Linked DNA regions of Homo sapiens: regions 1, 2, 3, 5 and 6 are each linked to region 4. Evidence: fine-mapped expression QTL. A gene starts in region 4. Each other region holds a variant in brackets. All regions are shown on one strand. Distances are between the middles of the regions. Region 1 overlaps ZNF511-PRAP1 (ZNF511-PRAP1 readthrough). Region 2 overlaps MTG1 (mitochondrial ribosome associated GTPase 1). Region 3 overlaps ZNF511-PRAP1 (ZNF511-PRAP1 readthrough). Region 4 holds the start of TUBGCP2 (tubulin gamma complex component 2). Region 5 overlaps ECHS1 (enoyl-CoA hydratase, short chain 1). Region 6 overlaps ADAM8 (ADAM metallopeptidase domain 8).

Evidence for each region.
Region 1: its variant is fine-mapped to the expression of TUBGCP2 in whole blood (TOPMed, PIP 0.97).
Region 2: its variant is fine-mapped to the expression of TUBGCP2 in whole blood (TOPMed, PIP 0.96).
Region 3: its variant is fine-mapped to the expression of TUBGCP2 in whole blood (INTERVAL, PIP 0.98).
Region 5: its variant is fine-mapped to the expression of TUBGCP2 in whole blood (TOPMed, PIP 0.93).
Region 6: its variant is fine-mapped to the expression of TUBGCP2 in whole blood (TOPMed, PIP above 0.99).

Annotation. Positions count from the first base shown.
Region 1 is chr10:133,329,910-133,334,709 of GRCh38, reverse strand. All of the region lies in intron 5 of ZNF511-PRAP1 (ZNF511-PRAP1 readthrough), which reads right to left. All of the region lies in intron 1 of CALY (calcyon neuron specific vesicular protein), which reads left to right. Among named protein-coding and RNA genes, the nearest start is that of CALY, 4.6 kb to the left of the region's middle. RefSeq lists an enhancer at 4,485-4,564. The variant G/A (reference allele first, on the strand shown) is at 1,974.
Region 2 is chr10:133,402,975-133,407,406 of GRCh38, reverse strand. All of the region lies in intron 9 of MTG1 (mitochondrial ribosome associated GTPase 1), which reads right to left. Among named protein-coding and RNA genes, the nearest start is that of MTG1, 11 kb to the right of the region's middle. The variant T/C (reference allele first, on the strand shown) is at 1,719.
Region 3 is chr10:133,340,337-133,345,136 of GRCh38, reverse strand. All of the region lies in intron 5 of ZNF511-PRAP1 (ZNF511-PRAP1 readthrough), which reads right to left. It also overlaps the pseudogene BANF1P2. Among named protein-coding and RNA genes, the nearest start is that of PRAP1, 4.6 kb to the left of the region's middle. The variant T/C (reference allele first, on the strand shown) is at 2,605.
Region 4 is chr10:133,306,611-133,311,410 of GRCh38, reverse strand. It overlaps TUBGCP2 (tubulin gamma complex component 2), which reads left to right and starts at 2,539. Exons shown (of 18, transcript NM_006659.4): 1 at 2,539-2,588. It overlaps ZNF511-PRAP1 (ZNF511-PRAP1 readthrough), which reads right to left and starts at 2,497. Exons shown (of 9, transcript NM_001396060.1): 1 at 2,315-2,497; 2 at 1,948-2,021; 3 at 1,434-1,635; 4 at 1,123-1,247. The coding sequence starts at 2,467. ZNF511 (zinc finger protein 511) reads right to left here and starts at 2,497. Exons shown (of 6, transcript NM_145806.4): 1 at 2,315-2,497; 2 at 1,948-2,021; 3 at 1,434-1,635; 4 at 1,123-1,247. The coding sequence starts at 2,467. RefSeq lists enhancers at 2,012-2,306, 1,714-2,409, 3,133-3,362 and a silencer at 2,053-2,902.
Region 5 is chr10:133,361,918-133,366,717 of GRCh38, reverse strand. It overlaps ECHS1 (enoyl-CoA hydratase, short chain 1), which reads left to right. Exons shown (of 8, transcript NM_004092.4): 6 at 623-742; 7 at 1,993-2,060; 8 at 3,785-4,233. The coding sequence ends at 3,850. Among named protein-coding and RNA genes, the nearest start is that of FUOM, 6.3 kb to the right of the region's middle. The variant G/A (reference allele first, on the strand shown) is at 2,410.
Region 6 is chr10:133,260,324-133,265,123 of GRCh38, reverse strand. ADAM8 (ADAM metallopeptidase domain 8) reads left to right here. Exons shown (of 23, transcript NM_001109.5): 22 at 1,359-1,436; 23 at 1,891-2,701. The coding sequence ends at 1,968. Among named protein-coding and RNA genes, the nearest start is that of ADAM8, 14 kb to the left of the region's middle. RefSeq lists an enhancer at 1,824-2,800 and a silencer at 3,117-3,446. The variant G/T (reference allele first, on the strand shown) is at 2,105.

The sequences.
Region 1 (4,800 bases), 23 kb before region 4:
CCGCACTCTCGCCCACGCAGATCCTTCCCCCTCAGTTCTTTCCCCACGCAGAAGCTGCCACCTCCAAATCCTTCCTCCCCTGATCCTTCCCCCTTCAGATCCTTCGCCCCTCAGATCCTTCTCCCTCATGTCCTTCCCCCTCAGAGCCTCCCCCTCAGAGCCTTCCCCCCTCAGAGCCTTCCCCGCTCAGATCCTTCGCCCCTCAGATCCTTCCCCTCATGTCCTTCCCCTTCAGAGCCTCCCCTTCAGAGTCTTCCCCCCTCAGAGCCTTCCCCGCTCAGATCCTTCCCCCCTCAGATCCTTCGCCTTTCAGATCCTTCCCCCTCATGTCCTTCCCCCCTCAGAGCCTTCCCCCCTCAGAGCCTTCCCCCCTCAGAGCCTTCCCCGCTCAGATCCTTCCCCCCTCAGATCCTTCGCCTTTCAGATCCTTCCCCCTCATGTCCTTCCCCCCTCAGAGCCTTCCCCCCTCAGAGCCTTCCCCGCTCAGATCCTTCCCCCCTCAGATCCTTCGCCTTTCAGATCCTTCCCCCTCATGTCCTTCCCCCCTCAGAGCTTCCCCTTCAGAGCCTTCCCCCCTCAGAGCCTTCCCCCCTCAGATCCTTCGCCCCTCAGATCCTTCCCCCTCATGTCCTTCCCCCCTCAGAGCCTTCCCCCCTCAGAGCCTTCCCCGCTCAGATCCTTCCCCCCTCAGATCCTTCGCCTTTCAGATCCTTCCCCCTCATGTCCTTCCCCCCTCAGAGCCTCCCCTTCAGAGCCTTCCCCCCTCAGAGCCTTCCCCGCTCAGATCCTTCCCCCCTCAGAGCTTCCCCTTCAGAGCCTTCCCCCCTCAGAGCCTTCCCCCCTCAGATCCTTCCCCCCTCAGAGCCTTCCCCCCTCAGATCCTTCCCCCCTCAGAGCCTTCCCCCCTCAGATCCTTCCCCCCTCAGAGCCTTCCCCCCTCAGATCCTTCCCCCCTCAGAGCCTTCCACTCTCAGATCTTTCCCCCTCAGAGCCTTCCACTCTCAGATCTTTCTTTCCCCCTCAGAGCCTTCCACTCTCAGATCTTTCCGCCTCAGAGCCTTCCACTCTCAGATCTTTCCCCCTCAGAGCCCTCCCTCTCAGATACCTCCGCTCTCCGACCCTTCCCACCTGGGATCCTACCCCACTTGGATCGTTCCCCAAGTCGGATTCTTCCCCCCTCAGATCCTTCCACCCTCGGATCCCTCCCCCTGCGTCGGATCCTTCCCCCCGCGTCATATCCTTACCCCTTCGGATCCCTCCCCGCACCCCGTTGGGGTCCCTTCCCTTCAGATCGTTCCACCCTCGGACCCCTCCGCTCGGATCCCTCCCCTCCACCCCACCCCCACCCGCGCAATCCTTCCCCGTTGGGTCCCTCTGTCCTTGGATCCCTCACCCCTCGGATCCTTCCCCCCCCCCCACCCCCTCAATCCTTCTCCCTCGGATCCTTCCACCTTGCAATCATTCCACCCTCAGCTCCTTCCACCCTTAGATTCTCCTCCACGCAGATGCCTCCACATTATCTGTACTTGAGTGGCAGCAGCTGGGCAGAAGCTCTGTGACCGCGGGTCCCTTGCTCCTGTTCCCGTGGTGCCTACCCACACCTGGAACCCACAGCGGAGCCTGGCCACTGCAGGGCGAGAAAGACTGGTCACTGCTGGCTCTGGCAGTTAATTGGACATCCTCGCGCTGCTGTCACAAATTACAAGCAGGTGGCTTAAAATAACAAATTCTTTCACAGTTCTGGAGTCAAGAAGTCCAAAATGAAGGTGTTCACGGGGCCATGCTCCCTCCAAAGCCTCTAGGGGAGCTTTTTCCTTGCTTCCTCCAGCTTCTGGTGGCCCAAGCAATCCTTGGGTTTCAGCTGCATCGTTCCAATCTCTGCTCCGTCTACACATAACACTCTCCTATGTCTAATTTCCCTGTTTTAATAACGATACCAGTTTTGGGTCAAGGCCCACGCTGATTCAGGACGA[G/A]TTTATTTTAGCTTGATTACATCTGCAAAGACCCTATTTTCAAATAAGATCCCATTCAAAGGCACCCCTCACTCAGATCCTAGGACTTGGATGTATTTTTGAGGGAACATCATTCAACCCACAATGCACCCTCATCATTTGTGGGTTGCAACTGTCTTCTCCCAGTCTTGGTTTCTGCTTCCATTTTTTGAAGGCTGTTTTGATAAGCAGAAGTTCATAGTTTTAATGAAGTCATTTTATCAATATTTCCTTTTATGGTTAGTACCTATTGTCCTAATGAAGAAACATTTCCCTCCCTGAGACCAGAAAAATCTTCTTCTGTATTATCTTTGAGATGCTTTATTGTTTTGCTTTTCCAGTTTAGGTTTATCCACCTGGAGTAGACTTCTCTGTGTAATGTGAGGTAGGGATCAGGCTCATTGCTCTTGATGTGGACAGCGGTTTACTGAGAGGCAGCCATGCTGCAAATCAGGGTCTGTGTGTGCAAAGTGTGTCACGTGGGACTTTTTCCACCACGCAGTAGCCCCACACCTCTCCATTTCCAATGCTGTGCAACAAGCTAGACCCTGGCAGATGAGACCTCCTCCATGTTCTTTTTTTTTTTTTTCCCAGACGGAGTTTTGCTCTTGTTGCCCAGGCTGGAGTGTGGTAGTGCAATCTCAGCTCGCTGCAACCTCTGCCTCCCAGGTTCAAGGGATTCTCCTGCCTCAGCCTCCCGAGATTCTGGGATTATAGGCGTGTACCACCATGCCCGGCTAGTTTTTGTATTTTTAGTCGAGACAGGGTTTCACCATGTTGGCCAGGCTGGTCTCAAACTCCTGATCTTGTGATCCACCCACTTCTGCCTCCCAAAGTGTTGGGACTACAGGCGTGAGCCACTGTGCCTGGCAATCCATGTTCTTTTCCAAGATACTTGATGTGTTCCTGCCCCTCTGCCTTCCATATAAAATGACAGTGCTTGTCAAGTTCATTTTAAAAACCCTGTTGGGATTTTGCTTAAGATTTACTGCATCTACAGATTGGGGGGTGGGTAATTTGTTTAAACATAGAAACTCCCAAAATCCATAGCCACAGCCTTCCCCATTTACTTGGGGAATTTAGCTTTTCTTGGTCTCTGTCGACAGTGTTTCCTGGATTCCATGTGAAGGCCCTGCCCTGTCCCTGCTCCTCAGCTCTTTTTACACCTATTCCTGAGGATTTGATAGTTTTGATATTATTTAAATTGAGTACTTCAATAAATTATTTATTTATTTATTTTTGCCACTGACATATAGGAATGTAACTGATTTCTGAATACCTTAAATCCAACAACCTTGCCAAACTCACTTTTTGATCCTTATGATTTGTCTATATATTCTTTTGGGGTTTCTAAACACAGACACTGTTTCATGGGTGAATCAATCAGAGTTTTACTTTTTCTTGTCTGGCACTGGAGCTCTTTCTTTGTCCTGCCCTACAGCATTGGCTGAGACCTCCAGCACCATAACTTGTAGAACCGCAGATCGAGGCACTTTCAGGATTCACATTCAGTGAGGTTTGCTGTGGGGATTTAGTGGTTCACTGTTACCGGGTTACAGCACTCGCCTCCTGCCTTAATGCACTAATGGGTCCGAGGAATAGTAAATGAGCCCTGAGTCTTACCCAGAGTTACTTCTGCTCCTCTAGCAATTGATCAGATAACGCTTTTTCATTATTCTGTTAATATGGTGAAAAATATGATTGCTTGTCAAATGTTAAGCCAAACTTCATTTCCAGAATACACCCAAACTGTCATGATATGTTACCTTGTTGTATTCGCTGGATTCACGCTGCTTGAGCTTTGGGGCCTCGCAGTGGTGTGTACGTGTGGCGGGGGCTGGCCTGTGAGCTCCTCTCCGCTGCTGTCCTTGCTGGGTTAGGGACTGAGGCTACGTTGGCCTCAGGAGCTGGTGAGTGCTCCCTTGTCTTTCTGGAAGAGTTTTGTGGACGTGCATTACTTTCCCTGTAAATGGTTGGTAGAATGCTGTGGTGATGCTGTCTGCGCCTGGAGTTCTTTGTGAGAGAAGGTTGTAATGACAGATTCCTTTTTTTTTTTTTTTTGAGACGGAGTCTCTCTCTGTCACCCAGGCTGGAGTGCGGTGGCGCGATCTCGGCTCACTGCAAGCTCCGCCTCCCAGGTTCACGCCATTCTCCTGCCTCAGCCTCCCAAGTAGCTGGGACTACAGGCGCCCGCCACCGCGCCCGGCTAATTTTTTGTATTTTTTAGTAGAGACGGGGTTTCACCGTGTTAGCCAGAATGGTCTCGATCTCCTGACCTCGTGACCCGCCCGCCTCGGCCTCCCAAAGTGCTGGGATTACAGGCGTGAGCCACCGCGCCCTGCCTTTTTTTTTTTTTTTTTTTTTTTTTGGCAGAGTTTCGTTCTGTCACCTAGGCTGGAGTGCAGTGGCGTGATCTCGGCTCATTGCAACCTCCGCCTCCCGGGTTCAAGCGATTCTCCCGCCTCAGCCTCCCGAGTGGCTGGGACCACAGGCGCCGCCATAGCACCGGGCCACAGGTTCCGTGTCTACTGCACACAGGACCTTTCTTTTCTCCTTTGATTGATTGAATACATTTTCTTTTTCTGCTTTTTCCATCCATCAGCTCGGAGGTCATCCGCTGCATTCCTTTTCTCTAGAAGGTCCGCCTGAAGGCGAAGCCGGGCACCCTCGGCTTCTCTGGGTTAGTGGGGCCCGCCCTCTCCCAGCCCCGCGGGGCCCTGCTGTGGCTTTCAGCTCCGCAGGAGACCCGCTCTCCGCGGCCTTTAGCGCCAGGCTCGCAGCTGGGCTGACTCGCGGGTGCCCTCTTGTG
Region 2 (4,432 bases), 96 kb before region 4:
AGAAGAATACTGTTAAAATGTCACCACCCAAAGCAATTTACAGATTTAATGCAATCGTTATCAAAATAGCAATGACACTCTGCAAAGAAATAGAAAAACAATCCTAAAATTTGTATGGCACCACTAAAGGCCCCAAACAGCCAAAGCAAACCTGAAGCAAAAAGAACAAAGCTAGAGGCATCACACTACCTGACTTCAAAATATTCGTAGTAACCAAAAACAGCACGCTACTGGCATAAAACACATACACAGAACAGTGGAACAGACCAGAGAACCCAGAAATACATCCACACATTTACAGCCAACTCATTTTCGACAAAAGTGCCAAGAACATACACTGGGGAAAGGACAGTCTCTCCCATAAAAGGGTGCTGGTTAAACTGGATAACCACAGGCAGAATGAAACTAGACCCCATCTCTCACAATATACAAAACCAAATCAAAAGGGATTAAAGACTTAAATCTGGCCGGGTGCGGTGGCTATTACAGGCCAAGGCAGGTGGATCACGAGGTCAGGAGTTCAAGACCAGCCTGGCCAAGATGGTGAAACCCCATCTCTACTAAAAATACAAAACTTAGCCAGGTATGGTGGCGGGCACCTGTAGTCCCAGCTACTTGGGAGGCTGAGGCAGAGAACTGCTTGAACCCAGGAAGCAGGGGTTGCAGCGAGCCGAGATCGTGCCACTGCACTCCAGCCTGGGTGACACAGTGAGACTCCTTCTCAAAAAAAAAAAAAAAAAAGACTTAAATCTAAGACCTGAAACTTCAAAACTGCTAGAAGAAAACGTAAGGGAAACGCTTCTGGAAATTGGTCTGGGCCAGATTTTTTTTGTATAAGACCTCAAAAGCACAGGCAACAAAAGCAAAAATAATAATAATAATAATAGGCAAATGTAAAAAAATTTACATCAAGCTGAAAAGCTTCTGCACAGCAAAGGAAACAATCAGCAAGCCAGGCATGGTGGTACGTGCCTATAATCCCAGCTACTTGGGAGGCTGAGGCAGGAGGATCTCTTGAGCCCAAGAGTTCGAGGCTGCAGTGAGCTGTGATCGCACCACTGCACTCAGCCTGGACGGCACGGCAAGACCCGAAGCAAGAAACGAAACTATCAAAGCACTGACAAGATAATCTACAGAATAGGAGAAAATATCTGCAAACTACTCAACAAGGAATTAATAACCAGATTATATAAGCAATTCAACTCAACAGCAAAAAAAACCACATAACTATTTAAAAATGGACAGAAGATCTGAATAATTATTTCTCAAAAGAAGACATACAAATGGCCAACAAGTGTATGAAAAAATGCTCAACATGACTAATCACCAGAGAAATGCAAATCAAAACCACAATGAGATTTCATCTCACCCTAGTTAAAATGGCTTTTATTAAAAAACACAGAGAATAGCAGATGCTGTTGAGGATGTAGAGAAAGGGGAGCTGTCGTACACTGTTGGTGGGAATGTAAGTTAGTACAGCTACTATGGAAAACAGTATGGAGGTTCTTCAAAACACTACAAATAGAACTGCCATAGGATCCAGCAATCCCACTACTGGGTATAGACCCAAAAGAATGGAAATCAATATACTGAAGAAATACTGCACTCCCATGCTCACGGCAGCACTACTCACAATAGCCAAGATATGCAATCTACCTAAGTGTCCATCAAAGGATGATGGATACAGAAAATGTGGTACATAAAACACAATGAAATAT[T/C]AGCCATAACAAAGGACGAAATCTTGTCATTTGCAGTAATACAAACAGAACTGGAGATCATTCTGTTAAGTGAAATAAACAGGCACAGAAAGACAAATAATGCATGTTCTAACTCAAATGTGGGAGCTAAAAACGTGGACTTCATTAAGACAGAGAGCAGACTGGTGATTACCAGAGGTGAGGGGAAGAGGGGATGGACAGAGGTTGATTAATGAATAGTTCGGTAGAGTGACTTCAGTTAACAGGAATCTACAGGATATTTCAAATACCAGAAGAGAGCAATTCAAATGTTTCCAGCATGAAGATAAATGTTTGGGATGATGGATATCCCAATTACCCTGATCTGATCATTACACATTGTATGAATGCATCAAAATATCATAGGTACCCTGAAAACATCTACTTTGTATCAAAAGATAAATCTTAGCATTAAAAGTTTAAAAAAGAGTTCAATATAAATCTTACAAAACACTGTAAACTACAAAACACTGCAAAGAAAAACTAAAGACCTAAATAAATGAAGAGATACACTATATTCACGGGTCAGAGACTCAGTGTTACAATATTGTCAATTCTTCCCCAGACTGACCTATAAATTCAGGGGAATCTGCCACCCGGCCTCAAGAAACATAGGGATTTTTGTAGAAACTGACAAAGTGACTGAAAAATGCATGAGAATACAAAGAACCAGGAAAAGACAAAGCAATTTTGACAAAGAAGAGTGGGGGCTACCAGCACTGCCTGATTTCAAATCTCATATTAAATTAGAAGCAGTTACCAAGACGGTCGGTCACACAGAAAAGTGACACAGTTAGAGTCCACAAACAGACCCACGTATATGGACAACCGATTTGCGACAAAGATGCAAAGACAATTCAGTGGAGAAAAGACAGTCTTTGCAACAAATGTTTCCGGAACAACTGGTTCTCCATGTGCAAAAAAAAAAGAACTTCAATCTGCAGCTTGTACCATATACCAAAAAATCAGAAAGGATCATAGCCCTAAATGTAAAACCTAAAACCATCTATCTTCAATGAGGAAACCCTTGTGACCCTGGTTTAAGCAAAGATTTCTTAGATATGACAACAAGAGTACTCTGGAAAAGATCTAGCTGATAAACTGGACTGCATGAAAATTAACAATTCTACTCCTCGGAAAACACTGTTAAGAGGGCTGAAAAGACAAGGCACAGACTTAAAGTATTTACAAACCGTATCTCTGATTAAGGACTTGTATCCAGAATATATTAGAAAAAGGTTACAGGCTGGGCATGGTGCCTCATGCCTATAATCCTAATGCTTTGGGAGGCTGAGGCGGGCAGATCCCTTGAGCCCAGGAGTTCAAGACCAGCCTGGGCAACATGGGGAAACCCTGTCTCTACAAAAAATACAAAAATCAGCTATGTGTGGTGGCACACGCCTGTAGTCTCAGCTACTTGGGAGGCTGAAGTGGGAGGATCGCTTGAGCCCAGGAGGTCAGGCTGCAGTGAGCTGAGACTGTACCACTGCACTTCAGCCTGGGTAACTGAGACCCTGTCTCAAAAAAAAAAAAAAAAAAAAGATTAAAACTTAGCAATAAGGAAAGAAACAACTCAGTTAAAAAAAAAAAAAGGGAAAAGGATTTGAACAGACATTTCCCCAGAGAGGGATGACAAATAAGCACATGAAGATGCTCAACGTCCCTGTCATCAGGGAAATGCAAATTGAAATGCTATGCGACACCCCTACACGCCCGCCCATCAGACAGGCCAAAGTTAAAGACTGATCTTAGAGAAACTGAAGGACTCATTCCCTGCTTGCCAGCATATAAAACAGTGTAACTACCTTGGAAAACAATGTGGCGGTTTCTTAAAAACTCAAACATATGCCTCCCCTATGATCCAGCCACTCTACTCCTAGGTATTAACCCAAGGGAAACGAAAGCCCGGATCTACACAAAGACCTGTCGGTACATGAATGTTCACAGCAGCTTTATCTGCAATAGCCAAAACCTGCAAACAACCCACATATCCATCAACGGGTGAAGGGACAGACTGCAGCGCACCTGGACACTGAAACCGCCTGGCAACAAAAAGGATGAATGACGGACAACACACGACGACACACGGGGATCACACAACAATCGTGCCGAGTGACAGATCAACAAGAATGCACATCCTGTGTGATTCCATCTACGTGGAATTCTAGAAAACCCAAAGCAACCTACAGGGACAGTAGACGGCTGCCTGGGCTCAGGGAGGGGCAGGAAGGTGTGATCACGAAGGAGCACAGGGACTGGGGGTGACGGGAACGCTCATTTCCTTGATTTCACGAAGGAGGAGCAGGGACTGGGGGTGACGGGAACGCTCATTTCCTTGATTTCACGAAGGAGGAGCAGGGACTGGGGGTGACGGGAACGCTCGTTTCCTTGATTTCACGAAGGAGGAGCAGGGACTGGGGGTGACGGGAACGCTCGTTTCCTTGATTTCACGAAGGAGGAGCAGGGACTGGGGGTGACGGGAACGCTCGTTTCCTTGATTTCACGAAGGAGGAGCAGGGACTGGGGGTGACGGGAACGCTCGTTTCCTTGATTTCACGAAGGAGGAGCAGGGACTGGGGGTGACGGGAACGCTCGTTTCCTTGATTTCACGAAGGAGGAGCAGGGATGGGGGGTGACGGGAACGCTCGTTTCCTTGATTTCACGAAAGAGGAGCAGGGACTGGGGGTGACGGGAAC
Region 3 (4,800 bases), 34 kb before region 4:
AGGATCTTAGTTTATAGTTTAATGTTGAAACAAAGATGAAAACAGCCCCTTCCTGAACAAACCCCCTTCTTGCCTGGGGACCAGACTGCCTTTGTAAAACTAACAAATTAGTCACAAGATTAGAAATTATGGTTTAGGAAACTTCTAGTGGCTTGAGGTATCGGCCGGAGCGGCCGGGTGGCGGGAGGAACCGTTACGGGAACTGAAGTTGCCGATTAAGCCTGATCAAGATGCCAACCTCCCAAAAGCACCGAGACTTCAGGGCAGAGCCCATGGGGGAAAAGCTAGTGGGGAGCCTGGCCAGGATTGGTGAAGTCCTGGGCAAGAAGCTGGAGGAAAGGGGCTTTGACAAGGCCTATGTTGTCCTTGGCCAGTTTCTGGTGCTGAGGAAAGATGAAGACCTGTTCCGGGAATGGCCAAAGGACTCGTGGTGCCAACACCAAGCAGTCCCGGGACTTCGGATGCCTTCGAGAGCATGCGATGCCTTCTTGTGATGCTCTCCAGGAAGCTCTCAATCCCCAGCCCTCACCCAGAGTTTGTAGCCGAGTCGGGACTCCTCCCCTGTCCTCTACAAAGGAGAAGATTGCTATTGTCATACTCACGTCTGACGCACTCTGGGTCTTTTGGGAGTTTTCTCCCCTAACCATTTCAACTTTTTTGGACTCTCACTCTTGCATGTCTCCCCCTTCCTTTTTCACTTTCCCTGGTGACAGTTACCAGCTTTCCTGAATGGATTCCTGGCCCCGTCCCTCACCTCCACCCTCACTTTCAGTCCATTTGATACTATTTGGCTCCTTTTTTGGCAGAACAGTCACTGTCCTTGTAAAGTTTTTTAGATCAAGAAAGTCAGTGGCTTTCATGAAAAATAAAAAAGAAATTATGTTTTAGGTGTCAGGCAGGACCGGGCGCGGTGGCTCACGCCTGTAATCCCAGCACTTTGGGAGGCCGAGGCAGGCGGATCACGAGGTCAGGAGATCAAGACCATCCTGGCTAACATGGTGAAACCCCGTCTCTACTAAAAATACAAAAAATTAGCCGGACGTGGTTGCAGGCGCCTGTAGTCCCAGCTATTCGGGAGGCTGAGGCAGGAGAATGGCCTGAACCTGGGAGGCGGAGCTTGCAGTGAGCAGAGATCACGCCATTGCACTCCAGCCTGGGTGACAGAGCGAGACTCCGTCTCAAAAAAAAAAAAAAAAAAAAAAAAAGGAGTCAGGCAGCTGGAGGCCACAAGATTCTAAGCCTCCCCAATTATTCTTAGGGAAAACATCACTATTGTAAATCCTAAGATTGGTGCTCGAGACATTTTTCGGACTCTGAACTTGGTGGAACAGCTGGTGCCACCCAGATCCATGAACTGGCTCACCTGGTCTTGTGGCCCCCACTCAGGAAGTGACTCAGCACAAGAGGACAGATTCGACTCCCTGTGATTTCATCTGCAACCCAACCGATCAGCACTCCCTGCTTCCCAACCCCTACCCACCAAATTATCCTTTAAAATTTGAGTAGTGATAAAGCTCCAGCCTCCCGTTCAGCCGGCTCCGCGTGAATTAAACTTTCCGTGTTGCAGTTTCTCTCTGCCCTGATAAATCGGCTCTCTCTGGGCAGCAAGCAGAATGAGCCTGTTGGGCAGCTACACTCCCACCCACCCCTCAGTGGCCGAGTGGCTCCACGGGGGAGGCAGCAGAAGGCCAGTGGCTCAGGGAACTGGGGTCCCCAAGGGGATTATGAGCAGTGATTGGCAGGCCAGCCCGAACTTGAATGGGGTGATCAGGTCTGGAATGAGAAAGGCACAGGGAGCCTCCCCAGGTTCCCACACAGTCCCAGCTGACCTCCCCATTCCTCTGGCCCAACACAAGTCTGTGCATTCACACTCAGGAGACGGGAGACAGCCGGTGGGAAGTAAAGGTCGGGCACCTTAAAAACTGCATCCACACAGAGCGTGGCCCCCAGCCCACCCTTGAGGCACCAGCAGAGTGGGTCCCGCGGCCTGAGCACAGCCTCCAACCACACAACCCAGTGTGACTCAAGGAAGATAGGCTTAAAAAACTGGGCGGAGACACCAGGCCACGTGCTACAGGGGAAACAAAGTCCACAGATTTCAACAAAACAGCAACAACAACCCTTGGGAGAAAATATCAGAACTCAAAATGTTTGCAATATATTATCTAAAACATCTAGTCTTTAGTAAAATGAGACGAGGTCCCCAGGCTCGTCTCGAACTCCTGGGCTCAAGCAATCCTCCCACTCAGGCCTCCCAAAGTGCTGGGACCACAGGCATGAGCCACTGTGACTAGCCTGTTGTATATTTTAAATTAACAAAAAAGAGTGGAATTAGAATGTTAGCACAAAGAAATGATACAATCTTGGGGTTATGGATACCCCAATTATCCTGGTTTGATCATTACATATGGCATCCGTGTACCCCATGGATATATATACCTATTATGTACCCATAATAATTAAAACTTTTTAAAAATTAAAAATAAAGGGCCAGGTGCAGTGGCTCACGCCTGTAATTCCAGCGCTTTGGGAAGCCGAGGCGGGAGGATCACTCGCGGTCAGGAGTTCGAGACCACCCTGGCCAAAATAGCGAAACCCCGTTTC[T/C]ACTAAGAATACAAAAATTGGCTGGGTGTGGTGGCAGGCGCCTATAGTCCCAGCTACTAGGGAGGCTGAGGCAGGAGAATCGCTTGAACCCGGGAGGCGGAGGTTGCAGTGAGATGAGACTGCACCACTGCACTCCAGCCTGGTTGACAGAGTGAGACTCCATCTCAAAAAAATAATAATAAAACTAAAAAAAAGAAAGAAAAGGACTTATACCCAGAATATAAAAAGAACTCTTACAACTCAACAATAAAAAGACAAACAACCCAACTGAAAAATATTCAAAACATTTGCACAGACATTTCACCATAGATGATTTACAAATGGTGACTCCACCCTGAGAAGATGTTCAGCACCACTTGTCACTAGGGCGACGTGGACTCAAGCCACAGCTACACTCCTATAGGACGGTGTTATGGGCTGTGTCCCCTCTAAATTCATACATTGATGTCCTAACCCCTCAGAATATGACGATATTTGGAGATGGGTTTTTAAAGATGTAAGTAAGGTAAAGCAAGGTTATTAGGGTGGACCCTAATTCAACAGGACTGGTGTCCTTATAAGAAGAGATGAGAACACACAGATACGCCAAAGGGAAGACCATGTAAGGACACGGGGAGGTGTGGCCACCCACAAACCCAGGGAGCAGCCTCAGGAGGAGCCAACCCTGCCAACAGCTCCAACCCTGCCGACAGCTCCGTCTCAGACGTCAGCCTCCATCGCTGTGAGAACATGAATTTCCATTGTTGAAGCTGCCCAGTCTCTGGCAATTTGTTATGGCAGCCTCAGCTAAGACAGATGGCTAGTATAAAAAAGACAAAATCAAGGATCAAGAGTTGGTTGCTGGGCACGGTGGCTCACGCCTGTCATCCCAGCACTTTAGGAGGCCGAGGCGGGTTGAGACCATCCTGGCCAACATGGTGAAACCCCATCTTTACTAAAAATACAAAAATTAGCCAGGCGTGGTGGCATGAGCCTATAGTCCCAGCTACTTGGGTGCCTGAGGCAGGAGAATCGTTTGAACCCGGGAGGTGGAGGTTGCAATGAGCCAAGATCGTGCCACTGTACTCCAGCCTGGCCAGAGGGAGACTGTCTCAAAAAAAAAAAAAAATCAAGAGGTGGTGAGGATGTGGAGAAACTGGAACCCTCCTATACTGCTGGTGGGAATGTCACATGGTACGGCCACTTTGGAAAAACACATTTTAGCATTTTCTTTCAAAGTTAAATGTCAACTTTCCATCAAATTTGGCAATTCCACTCTTCAGTAACTACCCAAGAGAAAGAAAAGCACACGTCCACCAAGGTTGTGATAAGAATGTTCACCACAACATTATAAACAGCTGACAAACTGGAAACAGTTCATACGGATGAATGGATGAAACCTGGAGAATCCATGGGTTAACAGCAATAATGGCCGGGCGTGGTGGCTCACGCCTGTAATCACAGCACTTTGGGAGGCCAAGGCAGGCGGATCACCTGAGGTCAGGAGTTTGAGACCAGCCTGGCCAATATGGTGAAACCCTGTCTCTACTAAAAATACAAAAATTAGCTAGGCGTGGTGGCACACGCCTATAATCTCAGCTACTCAGGAGGCTCAGGCAGGAGAATCGCTTGAACCCCGGAGGCAGAGGTTGCGGTGAGCCGAGAACGTTCCATTGCCCTCCAGCCTGGGCAACAAGAGCAAAACTCCTCTTAAAAAAACAAAACTAAACTAAAACAAAACAGGTCGGGCGCAGTGGCTCACGCCTGTAATCTCAGCACTTTGGGAGGCCGAGGCAGGCGGATCACGAGGTCAGGAGATCGAGACCATCCTGGCTAACATGGTGAAACCCCGTCTCTACTAAAAATACAAAAAATAATTTAGCCGGGCTTGGTGGCGGGCGCCTGTAGTCCCAGCTACTCGGGAGGCTGAGGCAGGAGAATGGCTCGAACCCGGGAGGCAGGGCTTGCAGTGAGCCAAGATTGCGCCACTGCCCTCCAGCCTGGGCGACAGACCGAGACTCCGTCTCAAAAAAACAAAACAAAACAAAACAAAAAGACAGTAGTAACAACGGGTTACCGTTCAGCGTGGATGAAACGCGGCATGTCCATGAGTTAACAGCGGGAACAATGGGTTACGGTTTAGCAATGAAAACGAAGGCATCACCAACGCATGCTCCTGTCATTGCTGACCACCCACAGCTGGGAGCCGCACTCAGG
Region 4 (4,800 bases):
AATTTGCTAAAGTTAACCAGAGACTATAAACTAGTCTCTTCCATAATACGAATGTCTTAATCCAGCATTGCACGGTTTTTCTCCTTAAAATGATCCCTCGGAAAGGAGACAATTACTTTACACGTAAGTCTTTGTAAAGCCTCCCACATTGCAGTGGGTTCTCCCAGTTCTTTTATTTTAAAGAGCAAATTACTACTTGAGAAAATGTAGAGTCTGAAAAACTCTGATCAATAAAATTGTAGATGATTATGAAAGTTCACCTCATCAGTTAAAAAAAGAAGAAATATAACACAATTTAAAAATTGTTCCGGCTGGACATGGTAGCTCATACCTACAATCTCAGCACTTTGGGAGGCTGAGGCAGATGGACGGCTTGAGCCCAGGAGTTCACGACCAGACTGGGCAACATAGCAAGACCCTGTCTCTACAAAAAATAGAAAATTTTGCCGAGTGCGGCGATGCGTGTTGGTAGTCCTAGCACTTTAGGAGGCTGAAGTGGGAGAATCGCTTGAGCCTGAGAAGTGGAGGTTGCAGTGAACCTACATCACACCACTACACTCCAGCCTGGGTGTCAGAGCAAGACCCTGTCTCAAAAAAAAAAAAAGATTGTTCCTGGAAGTATTTCCCAGAGTGCACTCTAGGCAGGAACATGTTAATCAACAGCTTTGTCATCAAGTTCATATGCGCACAACCAACCAGGACAAAAGGAAAGCCAGGGCTGCATGATGTGTGAGCACGGCCGACGGCTGCAGGAGGTACAGACACGGCCCCGAGGGGTGTGAGTGCGGATGACCACGGCCGACTGCTGCAGGAGGTACAGGCATGGCCCAGAGGGGTGTGAGTGCGGAGGCGCTGCGCCCGCTCATTCCCACACCCCCTCTGCTGCCTCCACCGGCACAGAGCTGGGCAGCCAGGGGCTCCCCTCCAGCCTCCCTTCGGCAGGGTGGCCGCTGGCACAACCACCTGTAGCTGTGTTGCCAGGGCTTCAGGTACCTGCAGGTGAACACCCCATTAGGTGACACACAAGTGCTTAATAAGTCTGACCGTCTATGCATTCCGGCTAGTTGGAAACCTTTTCCTAAAATCAAAAGCAGACACGTGCTGAGCCTGGCGGCTCCCTACCTTCTGCTTTTCTTTGGCTTATCAAACCGGAAGTCCGCGGGGTACAGGTGCATCCTCACCATGTGATCCTTCCGGTCTCTGCTGGTCTTGAACTTCTCTGTGCAGCCTTCTACCAAGCACTGATACTGAAATGGAGACCGTGTCACCTCCCTCTGACCCCTGGCCCTCCCCCACCGCCATGCCCCCGTAGCAGAGCTGCCAAGGGCGGAAAGGTGTCCCCGGCCTTGCCCGAGCACCCGAGAGCTGGGGGCAGCACTCTGAGCCCATCACCAATGGGGGGTGGCCTCGGCGGCTGTGCAGTTGTCACCCACCATGTCCTGCCTCTCAGACAGGATCTGGAAGAGCGAATCGTGCCACTCCAGGATGTGGGCGTCCAGCAGGTGTCCGGAAGGGAAGGCCCGCTTGCAAAAGGAGCAAACATTTCCGTGCAGCGTGTGGTAGTGGTGCTCGTAGTCGTCCAGGGCATCGAACACCTGGCAGCAGCCGGCCACCTGGCAGGCAAACGCGGGCACCCTGCCAAGGAGACGTGCTTCAGGAGCCCTTCCTCCGGTGCGAGGAACCAAGCTGGACTTTCTGCACAGTTTCCCTTTGAGACGTCCAATAAAGCCCCTATGCATCTTTTGCAATCCCAAACCCTCTTTTTATGAATTAAGTTTCACAAACAGGCTAGGTGGTGGAAGAGTCGGCCACGCCAAAGCTGGACAGGCACAGCGCCTCGGTGGGGCGGCCGCACATGGAAGAGCGGCAGCACAGCCCCAGGGACCAGGCACCGGTCAGGGAGGCGGCGCAGGAGTAGCACTGGCTAGGCACTGCCCATTCGCTTACCTGGGCTTCTCAGGCACGTCGGCCACCTGCATGATCACGTCCTGGAGGTAGAGGTGGCGCTGCACGTCCCCATCCTGCAGGAAAAGTGCGCCGTGGGCGGGGCCAGGTGACTCGCGGCACGCCCACCGCGTCAGGCCTCGCCCACACCCGTGGCCCCAGTCATCCCGCGCTCCGGTCCCGCCCCACAGCCTCAGGCCCCGCCCACTCCACGTTCCGGCCCCGCCCCACCACCTCAGGTCCCGCCTGTCCCAGGCTCCGGCCCCGCCCCGCAGTCGTAGGCCCCTCCCACTCCAGGCTCCGGCCCCGCCTCGCCGCCGTAGGCCCCACTGGATCCTACAACTACTTTTTCCCTCTTTTGCTCACGCACCTCGAAGAACTGGTGCTCCCGCGGGAAGCGCACGGGGCGCGCAACGAAGCGAAAGGGCGCGGCCCCAGCCGCGGGATCCCGCTCTACAGGCAGCGGCTCCGCCGCCCCGGGCCCCGCAGCGAGGCGGGCGCACAGCGCGGGGGGCAACTGCATCACCCCGGGCGCGGGCGGGCGCAGCCTGTCGGCCACCGTCCGCGAGCCGAGCCGGACGTGACGTCACGCTCACTTCCGCCGCCGTCGGGGGCTGCGCGGGGGCTGTGGCTCCGGGACTGCGGTGAGTCCTGGCCGAACGCGGGCGCGGGCGTGATGAGGGGGTTGGGGGACTGCCAGGCCCGGGGGGGCCCACGAGGCGACGGGGCTGGCGGGACGCGGCTCTTCCCGCGCGCTCCCTCTGGCTGTGCAGCGGTCCCCGAACTCTGGGGCCGAAGCCCTTCGGGCCTGCACCGGCCAGGCCAGCGTCTTGCCCCGCGGCCCGACACTCAGCCGGGGCGGGGCGGAGCGGGCCTCCGGGTCGTCCCGGGTGTCCCCTCCCAGCCCTGGGAAGCCGGGTCGCAGGTCCCCCTCTCGCACGCCCTCTCCCGTCCGCCTTGCCCCGCCTGTCGTCTCCCGCTGCAGTCCCTGGATCTTGTTCCCTCTAAACCAGTCGCGAACTGGAGCCAAAGTGACTCCAGTTTTATTGTAACCGTTTTTAATTTAAAGCCCTTGGGTGACTTCCCGTTACTTTAGTTCAAAGGCCCTTTCCTGGTTTGTCGGGGTCCTGTCGACCTCTCCAGTCCCCGCAGCTCCCGTGAAACACAGGACCTGTGCTAGGTGCTCAGGGCGTGTGGGGGAAGGCATCACAGGAGGGCGCGGCAGCCTTGTAGGAGAGACAGACGTCAGAGTAAAGAGTCACCTAATTAAAATGGTGAATGACAACACACGCGGGAAGCAGTGGACGCTTCAGATCTACTGCAGAGAATGGGCCCAGTGGCGGATAGAGGCTTTAGCTTTCTCGTCTGTCACCCAGGCTGGAGTGCAATGGTGCGATCATAGCTGATAGATCGCTGCGGCCTCAAATTCTTGGGCTCAAGTGGTCCTGCTGCCTCAGCGTTCCAAAGAGCTGTAACTGCAGGCGTGAGCCACCATGCCTGCCCCTGTACTTTTTCCATGTTTAGATACACAAATATCTCTGTGTTACAGTTGTCTAGTGTTCAGCACCGCCACCTGCTGGGCAGGTTTGTAGCCCACGAGCAAGAGGCTCCTCTAGGTGGTTTAGGTGCATTGTAGGCCGTACACCATCCAGGTCTGCGAGTGACTCTGATGATCGCACAGAAGGAAATCATGTAACCATACGTTTCTCTTTTTTTCTTTTGGAGATAGTGTCTCTCTCTGTCGCTCAGGCTGGAGTGCAGTGGCGCGATCTGGGCTCACTGCAACCTCTGCCTGCTGGGTTCAAGCGATTCTCGTGCCTCAGCTTCCCAAGTAGCTGGGATTACAAGTGTGCGCCACCAGGCTTGGCCAATTTTTGTATTTTTGGTAGAGACTGGTTTTCACCATGTTGGCCAGGCATTTCTCAGAATGTTGAGTGATGCATGACTGTACTTTCTGTCTCTGTAAAAGCCTTTGGGCTCTTGACATTTTCCACAAGTTGTAAAATAACATTTTTCAAACCAATTTGTACAGTTAGCTTTGAGCTCTCAACAGAGACTCTTTTTCACGTCCCTCTGTGTTTTAATCACTTGGAGTGTGTGCTCACTAGGAGTGTGTGCCCCGCTTGTCCGTGGTGGAGTGTGACATGCGTGCATTGCTTCCCTCAGCACGCGTCCCTGCGGTAGCTCACAGCCTCTGTGAGGAGGACGTCAGTCCCTCCCAGTCACAGTTGCTGGGCCTGTCAGTTTGTGTGATTAATAGTAAGAATTCAGGAGCATCAAGAAGGCCAAGTCAGCGGCCATGGCTAGACGTTCCTCCAAGAAGCAGCCACGGCTAGATGTTCCTCAGAGCTGTGTTTTCAGTGGGACGCTGTGCATTTCTGGCGGGACAGCTCTGTTGATGATTAGCATCCCCCGCCCTTGCCCTCTAAGTAGCGAGAGCACCCTTCCATGACCGTGACACCCCAGAGTTGCCCTAGGACTTTTCCAAAGGTCTTCTGGGGGGAGGGACTCTGTGCGAGTACGGGCTGCCCTCTTGGAGGCCCGGTCCCCACATTCAGGGAGAGCAGCAGGCTCCTCATGGGATGAACACTCATGACGTGCGGGCATCTGTGCTTCTATTTCTAGAAGAGATACGAAGTTTCCTGAAGGTAGTTTTTATTTTTTTTATTATTATTTTTTGAGACAGAGTCTCGCTCTGTTGCCCAGGCTGGAATGCAGTGGTGTGATCTTGGCTCACTGCAAGCTCCGCCTCTCGGGTTCATGCCATTCTCCTGCCCCAGCCTCTGGAGTATCTGCGACTACAAGCGCCCGCCACCACCCCCGGCTAATTTTTTTGTATTTTTAGTAGAGATGGGG
Region 5 (4,800 bases), 55 kb before region 4:
TGTCTCCCTCGTGGGAGCCCCACAGAAACCCAGAGCTGCATCCAGGTGTCCCCCATGGGGGAGCCCCACAGAAACCCAGGGCGGCATCCAGGTGTCCCCCTCGTGGGAGCCCCACAGAAACCCCGGGCAGCATCCAAGTGCCCCCACGGTGGTTGCATGAGCTTTTGGGTCCTGAGGACCTGGGAGAAGACTGACTGCCTTTTGTTTCTACATTTTGAAGTACTGTATGTACGGAAGTGAACCACACGTAAGTATCTGGTACAGAATAACAGCCCAGCAATTGCGTCCCCAAAATGCAGTGTAAGCAATGGGCATCTCCAGGCCTCAGTGGCCGGTCCTCCCACTGCCCTGTTGGTGATCACAGTCCCCGTGTCTGGCCGCCTCTGCCGTCGGAGCTGTGGCCAGCCTGGCCCACATGTCTGAGAGCACAGTGACCGCAGTGCCGAGATCACTCAGCACTCAGGAAGGGGCACGTGCGGCACTTCCCGTGTGGAAGCCGCCCTTGCTTAGCGTCCAGAGGCTGGGGTGCTCCAGCCACGCTGCTCCCCAGCGGCCACTCACTCGAGAAGGGATAGACAAGTGCTGTTTCTGCACATCACTCACTGACTTTCTTGTGTTTCAGGTCTTGTCAGCAAGATTTGTCCTGTTGAGACACTGGTGGAAGAAGCCATCCAGTGTGCAGAAAAAATTGCCAGCAATTCTAAAATTGTAGTAGCGATGGCCAAAGAATCAGTGAATGCAGGTAGGGGATCTGCCAGGAAGACACTGGAGAGGTCTCCGTGGCTGTCAGGAGCATTCCTCAGCAGCAGGCTTTCTGGCTCCAAATGAATATGCCTTAAGCCCTCCTGGGCAGAAATGCTTCTCAGTGTCTCAGTTCTGCTGTCTGTAGAGTCGTGGTTTCTGGTCACGCACTCAGGAACTCCGCTGAGATGTTCCCAGCTCCCCTTTGTACCAGGGCCCAAGAACTGAGCCAGGCCTGGGAGGTGAGGGCAGTACAGAGCTGGCAGTGGCAGGGAAAGGCTGAGAAGGGAGCAGAGGTCCCAAATGTAAAATGGTCTCTGCCATGGGGAGGCTCGGTTCACCTCCCGAGACCTGGGGTTGGCGGCTGCGTGTGCGCCTGGCAGGTGGCTACGCAGGCTTGCAGCCCAGCACCACGCTGTTCGTTCTTGGCCTGGATCCCTTTTAGTTCTCCCTCTGCCAGGGAAGTGGATCTGAACCTCCCCCTCCTCAGAAATGCTCAAGTTTTAATGTCACAATTTATTCTCAGCATGTGGAATGAGATGGTTATTAGCTGGTTGAGTCCGGACAGGTGTGGGTGGCCCCAGGCAGGTCCCCTAACCTCTCTGAGTGCATTTATCTCGAGGGTGTGGCCGTCCCCCGGGCTTGCCGTTGGCTTGAGGCAGGATACAGTGAGGAGAGCATTTTGAAAGAACGGAGGCTGCTGTCGCCCGAGGTGTTTGGCAAGGTCGTGCTCCCCTGGGAGAGGATGCTGGCACCAGCCCTGGAGCCACAGCGCCTGCCTCCATCTGCGCACCTGGATCTGCTCTGCTTGGCCTCGTGCAAAGAACGGGCCTGGAATGAGCAGAGCCAAAGGCGTTCTTGGTGCCGGCCGCGCCCAGCTCTGGCTCTCGTGCTGTCCTTCCTGGTTTTCATCCTTGGTTATTTTTCTCTGTTTGCAGCCCCGTTGCCGCCTCACAGCCTCTCCTCAAGGGCACAGTTTGCCATCTCACCTTTCATCCAGTTCCTCTCCCTTCTTGGGGCCGTGGGCTACCGGAGTGTGACGTTTGGGGGCCATAGCAGAGCTGTTGGTTCTGCCAGGTCTCCGCTGGGGCAGTGCCTTTGAGAAGGGCGGCACCATGGAAGCCTGTGCAGGGCTGGGCCACGTCGAAAGCACAGTTGTGCATGGGTCAGTGAGGAGGGCTTCCTGTCACCGTGCAGGAAAAGTTCTGCATGTAATATCTCCGTTCATAACTCTGGGACTTTGTTTTTCAGCTTTTGAAATGACATTAACAGAAGGAAGTAAGTTGGAGAAGAAACTCTTTTATTCAACCTTTGCCACTGTGAGTAAACAGTGTTCAACCGGAGAATCAAGCAAATTCCAGTCACACAAGTTGCTGGGAATTTCCTTTTAAATTTTATCATTAAGTATCGTTTCTTTCTGGTCAGAACTGCCAGCCTCACCTTTAACGGGATCAGATTGGTTCCATCAGTGGGTCTTGATGTTAGGAAAAAAGTAGAGCATGTACAAGTTCAAAAGTACAGAAACCTTACAGGGGCTTTTCTTGTTTTTCCTGTTATGTGAGGTCTGTGAATTGCACCCTCAAGCAGCTCCTTTATTGAAAATGCAGTTTCAGCCGGGTGGGTGTCGAGCATCCGTAGCCCCAGCTTCCTGGGAGGCTGAGGCGGGTC[G/A]TTCGAGTCCAACTGGGCAGCAAAGCAAGACCCCGTCTCAAAAAAAAGACTTTTTTAAAAAATGAGGCCGGGCGCGGTGGCTCACCCTGTAATCCCAGCACTTTGGGAGGCTGAGGCGGGTGGATTGCCTGAGCTCAGGAGTTTGAAACCAGCCTGGGCAACATGACGAAACCCGTCTCTACTAAAAATCCAAAAAATTAGCCGGGCGTGGTGGCAGGTGCCTGTAATCCCAGCTACTCTGGAAGTTGAGGCAGGAGAATCGCTTGAACCCAGAGGCGGAGATTACAGTGAGCCGAGATCACGCCACTGCACTCCAGCCTGGGAGACAGAGTGAGACTCTGTCTGAAAAAAAAAATGTAACTCATTTTACCCATGTTTTTTTAGATCATTCCAATTATTTGGAATAGGCTCAAATGTATTCTAATAAGATAAGCTGAAGCTTTAGAGCAATATTTTATAAGATTTCTGCCAGTAACTTAAAGTAATTCCTCTAATTACCATCATAATTTTAATTTTCTTCCCTTTGAGGCAGAGTCTTGCTCGGTCGTCCAGGCTGGAATGCAGTGGTGAGATCTCAGCTCACTGCAACCTCCACCTCCTGGGTTCAAGTGATTCTCCTGCTTCAGCCTCCCGAGTAGCTGGGATTACAGGTGCCCACCACCACACCTGGCTAATTTTTGTATTTTTAGTAGAGACAGAGTTTCACCATGTTGGCCAGGCTGGTCTTGAACTCCTGACCTCAAGTGATCTGCCTGCCTCGGCCTCCCACAGTGCTGGGATTATAGGCGTGAGCCACTGCACCCGGCCAGATTACCATTTTAATTCATGTCTTTCACTGGGAGAAAGTCATACTTCGGTGTTTTAATTGTTCTATAAAATAAAAATTAAAAGTGGTTTGGGCACCTGAGGAAGGGGTACAGATGCGTGTGTGTGTGTGTGTGTGTGTGTGTGTGCGCGCGCGCACACCTGGGGACACACGTGCACACAGTGTAAGAAAAGCAGATGCAGAGTTGAGTTCTCACGTCCTACTCCAACACAGAGTAGCCCCTGATACAGGCCACCCATCATCCAGTTGATGACATGGTGAGTGACCAAGATGGGTGCATCTGAGGCTCTTTAGATGTGAGCTTGTTGGACATACACAGTGGCTCCTGAATGACCGTCACCTAGACTGGTAGAGAGAGGCCGTGAAAATCCCCGCGCCCAGGCCCAGCTCTGATTGGGCAGGTGTTCCTGCCGCTGAGTCCCCTCCCCGGCCCCCTGGGCCCCTGTGAGCATGAGTGAGGCAGAGCCAGGGAGAGACGGGCGGACATTGGCATCAGGCTCTGTGAGGATACTGCGCGTCCAGCTCTGTTTCTGTTCCTTTTCCTGCCAGGATGACCGGAAAGAAGGGATGACCGCGTTTGTGGAAAAGAGAAAGGCCAACTTCAAAGACCAGTGAGAACCAGCTGCCCCTGCTTCACACCTCTGCTTGGAGAGGACAAGTGCAGCCTGTCAGTTTTAGAAGCAAGTAAATCATCCTCTTTTCAAGAGCAGTGTCCGTGGTGTGCAGTTCCTCTCCAATTGCTGCGTGGTCGTGGCCCGACCTCTCACGGCATGACAGCCTTCGTCACCCAGCCTGTGAGGGTCCTGACTGGAGCACCTTCTAAATCTAAGATTCTGCTGAGGAGCCCCCGCTGGTCCCTCTGGGCATGCTGTGCTCGGACGGAAAGCGGGGCCTGCGGGTCCTTGTGTCCCTGCCGCTGAAGAATGGGGCTGCTCTGAGGGAAACGCTGTCTGCTGCCTTCATACAGATGCTGATTAAAGTGATAGCGATTCAGATTACACCACGCCTTGTAGTCATGTCTGCAATGAGCATTCTGTCATGTTAGTTGTTTTTTTAAACTTTTTTGTTTTTTCACTGTAAGGAACAACATTCAAACAAAACAAGTTTGTATAGTCAGTTGCCTCACATCATACTTCCAGGGTAGCCACTGTGAACAGCTGGGCTTGTGACTTCCTAGAGTTCTGTGCACGCACCCACACACCCCTGCACACGGGCACAGGCATGGTCTATGGTTTTCTTCCACGCCCACTCACGTCGAGCCCTTTCCTCACGAGAGCCCACCCTATTTTCTTCCTACTTCTGTCATAAGGAGCTCTCTGTTCAGTTTACTGCATTCTTCTCTACTGTGGGAACACACGACGTCAACTTGATCATCTTAACCACTGTGTTTTAGAGACGGGCTGGAGTGCGTGGCTCAGTCACAGCTCACTGCAGCTTGAATCTCCTGGGCTCAAGTGATCCTCCCCCCCTCCCAAGTAGCTGGGACCACAGGGGCGCACTCCCACACCCAGCTGACTGTTTAAATTTACCTTTTGTAGAGACGGGGTTTCCCCGTGTTGCCCAGG
Region 6 (4,800 bases), 46 kb after region 4:
GAGGCTGCAGCAGGAACAGGCGTGGAGGTAGATGGGGCAGAGGCTGCAGCAGGAGCTGGGCGTGGAGGTAGATGGGGCAGAGGCTGCAGCAGGAGCCGGGCGTGGAGGTAGATGGGGCAGAGGCTGCAGCAGGAACAGGCGTGGAGGTAGATGGGGCAGAGGCTGCAGCAGGAGCTGCGCGTGGAGGTAGATGGGGCAGAGGCTGCAGCAGGAGCTGGGCATGGAGGTAGATGGGGCAGAGGCTGCAGCAGGAACAGGCGTGGAGGTAGATGGGGCAGAGGCTGCAGCAGGAGCCGGGCGTGGAGGTAGGTGGGGCAGAGGCTGCAGCAGGAACCAGGCATGGAGGTAGATGCGGCAGAGGCTGCAGCAAGAGCCGGGCGTGGAGGTAGATGGGGCAGAGGCTGCAGCAGGAACAGGCGTGGCAGTAGATGGGGCTGAGGCTGCAGCAGGAACAGGCGTGGCAGTAGATGGGGCAGAGGCTGCAGCAGAACTGTGCAGGAGGGAAGTCACTCACTCTTCACTCTCACGGGCTTCCCCTGGCTGCTCAGTAGGGTCCTTTGGAAGCTGCTGAAAACTGCAAATGCTTAGCCCACCCAGGCTCCGTGTGACACAGCCAGGAGTGAGCTCCACAGCTCTGTGTGGTGGACATCCAGCCTCCCTACCCTGGGAAAGCTGAAATGCAAAGAAACACGTGTTTTAGTAGCTAATTATTGGCCTTTGAGCTTCCAAAACCCCACATTCCGGCAATCTGTAGAGCTCTTCAGGCCAGGCGCATTGGCTCATGCCTGTAATCCCAGCACTTTGGGAGGCTGGGGCGGGAGGATCACTTGAGCCCAGGAGTTCAAGACCAGCCTGGGCAACATAGGGAGACCCCGTCTCTACAAAAAATAAAAAATTAGCTGGGTATGGTGGCTTGTGCCTGTCGTCCCAGCTACTCAGGAGGCTGAGGCGGGAGGATCGCTTGAACCCAGGAAGAGGAAGCTGCAGTGAGCCAACATCACGCCACTGCACTCCAGTCTGGGTGACAGAGGGAGACCCTGACTCAAAAAAAAAAAAAAAAAAAAAGGAAAGGAAAAAAGCTCTTGGAGGGTAATATGGGGGTTGGTTAGGGGATGTGGATGGTGTACTGGGCAGGTGGGCCCAGGATGGCGTTCTGCCACTGATGGGCTTTATTCCTGGGCAGTGGCAGCCAGGAGGGCTTTTCTGTAGCGAGCTCAGTGGGGGCGGAGCCTGCAGGCTCCCTGGGGGGCAGAGCGAGGTCTGTGGGGAGCTTCGTTCCAGGTCCAGAGAAGGTGATGTCCAGGCTAGAGCCGGGAGTGCCTGGGGGACCCATGTCAGCTGTGTCTGTTTCCTCCCAGGTCATCAAGCCAACGTTCGCACCCCCAGTGCCCCCAGTCAAACCCGGGGCTGGTGCGGCCAACCCTGGTCCAGCTGAGGTGAGGCCCCAGCACACACCAGGCAGAGTCCACTGTGCAATGGACGGCACGGCCTCCCCACGGGGCTGACGGTGGCACTGCCCTGGAGGGTGGGGTTTTTTTCTGATTATCTGTGGATAAACTTGGGTGACTGAAAGAAAAGGGAAAGGCATTGGCAGTGGCTGTACTGTGGTATCTGTGCTGTGATCAGGGGACTTCTCAGCAGATGCCGACCCCGGCTGTCAGTGGTGCCTGACCTTCCCCCAGCAACTGCAGGGAAGAAAGTCTGTCCTCTGTGAGCTGTATATATTGTGACTGCCACACCTGCCATTGTGTGCATGGGCCATGTTGTTGGTGGATGAACCAAGAATCCACATTTTAAGAGATGTTAAAGGACGTAAAATTTCGTTGTACCCTTTATATACCTTTTATAGCAGGTAGTTTTTCAACATCAATTATCTTTTCCTCCTCCCAGGGTGCTGTTGGCCCAAAGGTTGCCCTGAAGCCCCCCATCCAGAGGAAGCAAGGAGCCGGAGCTCCCACAGCACCCTAGGGGGGCACCTGCGCCTGTGTGGAAATTTGGAGAAGTTGCGGCAGAGAAGCCATGCGTTCCAGCATTCCACGGTCCAGCTAGTGCCGCTCAGCCCTAGACCCTGACTTTGCAGGCTCAGCTGCTGTTCTAACCTCAG[G/T]AATGCATCTACCTGAGAGGCTCCTGCTGTCCACGCCCTCAGCCAATTCCTTCTCCCCGCCTTGGCCACGTGTAGCCCCAGCTGTCTGCAGGCACCAGGCTGGGATGAGCTGTGTGCTTGCGGGTGCGTGTGTGTGTACGTGTCTCCAGGTGGCCGCTGGTCTCCCGCTGTGTTCAGGAGGCCACATATACAGCCCCTCCCAGCCACACCTGCCCCTGCTCTGGGGCCTGCTGAGCCGGCTGCCCTGGGCACCCGGTTCCAGGCAGCACAGACGTGGGGCATCCCCAGAAAGACTCCATCCCAGGACCAGGTTCCCCTGCGTGCTCTTCGAGAGGGTGTCAGTGAGCAGACTGCACCCCAAGCTCCCGACTCCAGGTCCCCTGATCTTGGGGCCTGTTTCCCATGGGATTCAAGAGGGACAGCCCCAGCTTTGTGTGTGTTTAAGCTTAGGAATCGCCTTTATGGAAAGGGCTATGTGGGAGAGTCAGCTATCTTGTCTGGTTTTCTTGAGACCTCAGATGTGTGTTCAGCAGGGCTGAAAGCTTTTATTCTTTAATAATGAGAAATGTATATTTTACTAATAAATTATTGACCGAGTTCTGTAGATTCTTGTTAGATCAGCGGGGAAGGATGGAGGGCTTCAGTTCACGAGATACAAGGGTCGGCGCTTGGTAAAATGCAGACTGCGAATAGATGAGGTCAAGCCACCTTCTTTTCTCCCTGGATTTCTCAGGCCCTCCCCAGCGTAACTAAGCAGTCCCGCCCCTCCCGCGGGCAGACGATCCGATCCAGGAACCCACGCCCAAGAAGACTTCGCCGCGATGCACGGAGGAGCCCGCGCTACCCCTGCCCCGCCCCGTCTCCGGGCAATGGCCCGGCCCCGCCCCCGCCCCGTCTCCCGGCAACGGCCCCGCCCGCGCCCCGCCCATTCCGTCTCGTCTCCCGGCAACGGCCCCGCCCGCGCCCCGCCCATTCCGTCTCGTCTCCCGGCAACGGCCCCCGCCCGCGCCCCGCCCATTCCGTCTCGTCTCCTGGCAACGGCCCCGCCTCTTCCGGCCCCATGCCCTTGTCCGGGCCACTGCCCCGCACCCCCCCCGCCATGCTGGGCTCGACCCCGGCCCCGCGCGGCCTCCACGCCTGGCTGGACGCGCTCCCGCTCAGCCACCCACGCGCCGCCTGGCCCGGGACCTCAGCTATGGCGGTGGGCGCGCGTCCGCGAAGTCGTGGAGTCCGAGGGGCCCCCGCGGCAGGGGCCTGCGCCCTCGGCCCAGGAGAAGCGGCGAATGGCCCGCGGCGCCCCTCCCGGTTGCTCGCTGACCCCCCCGCCCAAGAGTCTGGGGCTGCGAACCCCGCTTCGCCTTTGCTGCATCCGACTCAGCCTTTCAGATCTGTAGGATCCGGGACTCCAGTGTCCGACTACAGGGCGGGGCTCACGGCCCACACGCGCCGCAGTACCCCGCCCGATGCGCACGTTCCCTCTGGGCACCCCCTGGGAGCGTCCCCGTGGTGCCAGGCTGGCGCGCTGGCCTCTGAGGAGGTGGCTTCTGCTCTAGGCACCTGAGCAGCAAGTCTGAGTGGGCGCCCACGGGGCGGAGGCTGTTAGACGCATCTGGTGCTGCACCGAGGAGGCCTGACGTCCCCTGTGGCCAAGCCCCCACACCCATGGGTGCTGCCTCCGGGTGGCTCCTCCGAGGCAGAGCCCTGAGCTGATAGCGCCCATTCGTCTCGCAGGCCTGCCACGCCCCCAGCTCCCTTCAGCACGAAGAATGAGAGCGTTCTGGAGGGGACAGGCCACTGCACTTGCAGAGGGTGGGTTCCTGTCTCTCAAGCCCATACCTCCCTTCCTCCCGATCTCCCCAGCCTCCGCCGCCCACCCCATTTCCTCGACAGTTGGATTCAAGGCTGGTGTCTACCTTGTAGTGGGGACCCAGCCGCCGGGCGCCAGAGCACCCAGACCCCGGAGTCCAGCAGCTACTGGAGGACAAGGAGCAGGCGCTGTCCTTTCCGCAGGAGACAGTCAGGGTGCAGGCGACCTGGCACCCTTGTTGCCGGGACACCCTGTGGCTGAAGGACTGGGAAACAGGGCCTGTGCGGAGCCTTGCAGAGAGGGCATGGCCTTCATTTTCTCCAGCCCTCCCCAAAATGCAGACATTTGCTGAGTACCTGTGGGCACCAGCTCTTATCACCTGGCGGTGCTGGCTGGCAAGTCTGCCTGGCTGCCCTCCAGCCAGAGCCGAGCCCCTTCTCCCATCCCCAAATGCACAGAAGACAGCCAGAGAGCCAGGGTCCTGGGCAGCACCTGCCCAGCCCAAGACTCCACATGAGCACTTAGATATGCAGTGCACACCTGGCTCTCTGCACACACCTGGTTCTCAACAGACACCTGGCTCTCCATGCACACCTGCTCTCAGTGCACACGCGGCTCTGCAGTGTACACCTGACTCTCTGCACACCTGACTCAGTGCACACCCGGCTCTGCAGCGCACACCTGACTCTCTCTGCACACCTGGTTCTCAGTGCACACCCGGCTCTGCAGCGCACACCTGACTCTCTCTGCACACCTGGTTCTCAGTGCACACCCGGCTCTGCAGCGCACACCTGACTCTGCACACTTGGTTCTCAGTGCACACCTGGCTCTCTCTGCAGACCTGATTCTCCGTGCACACCTGGTTCTCAGTGCACACCTGGCTCTCTCT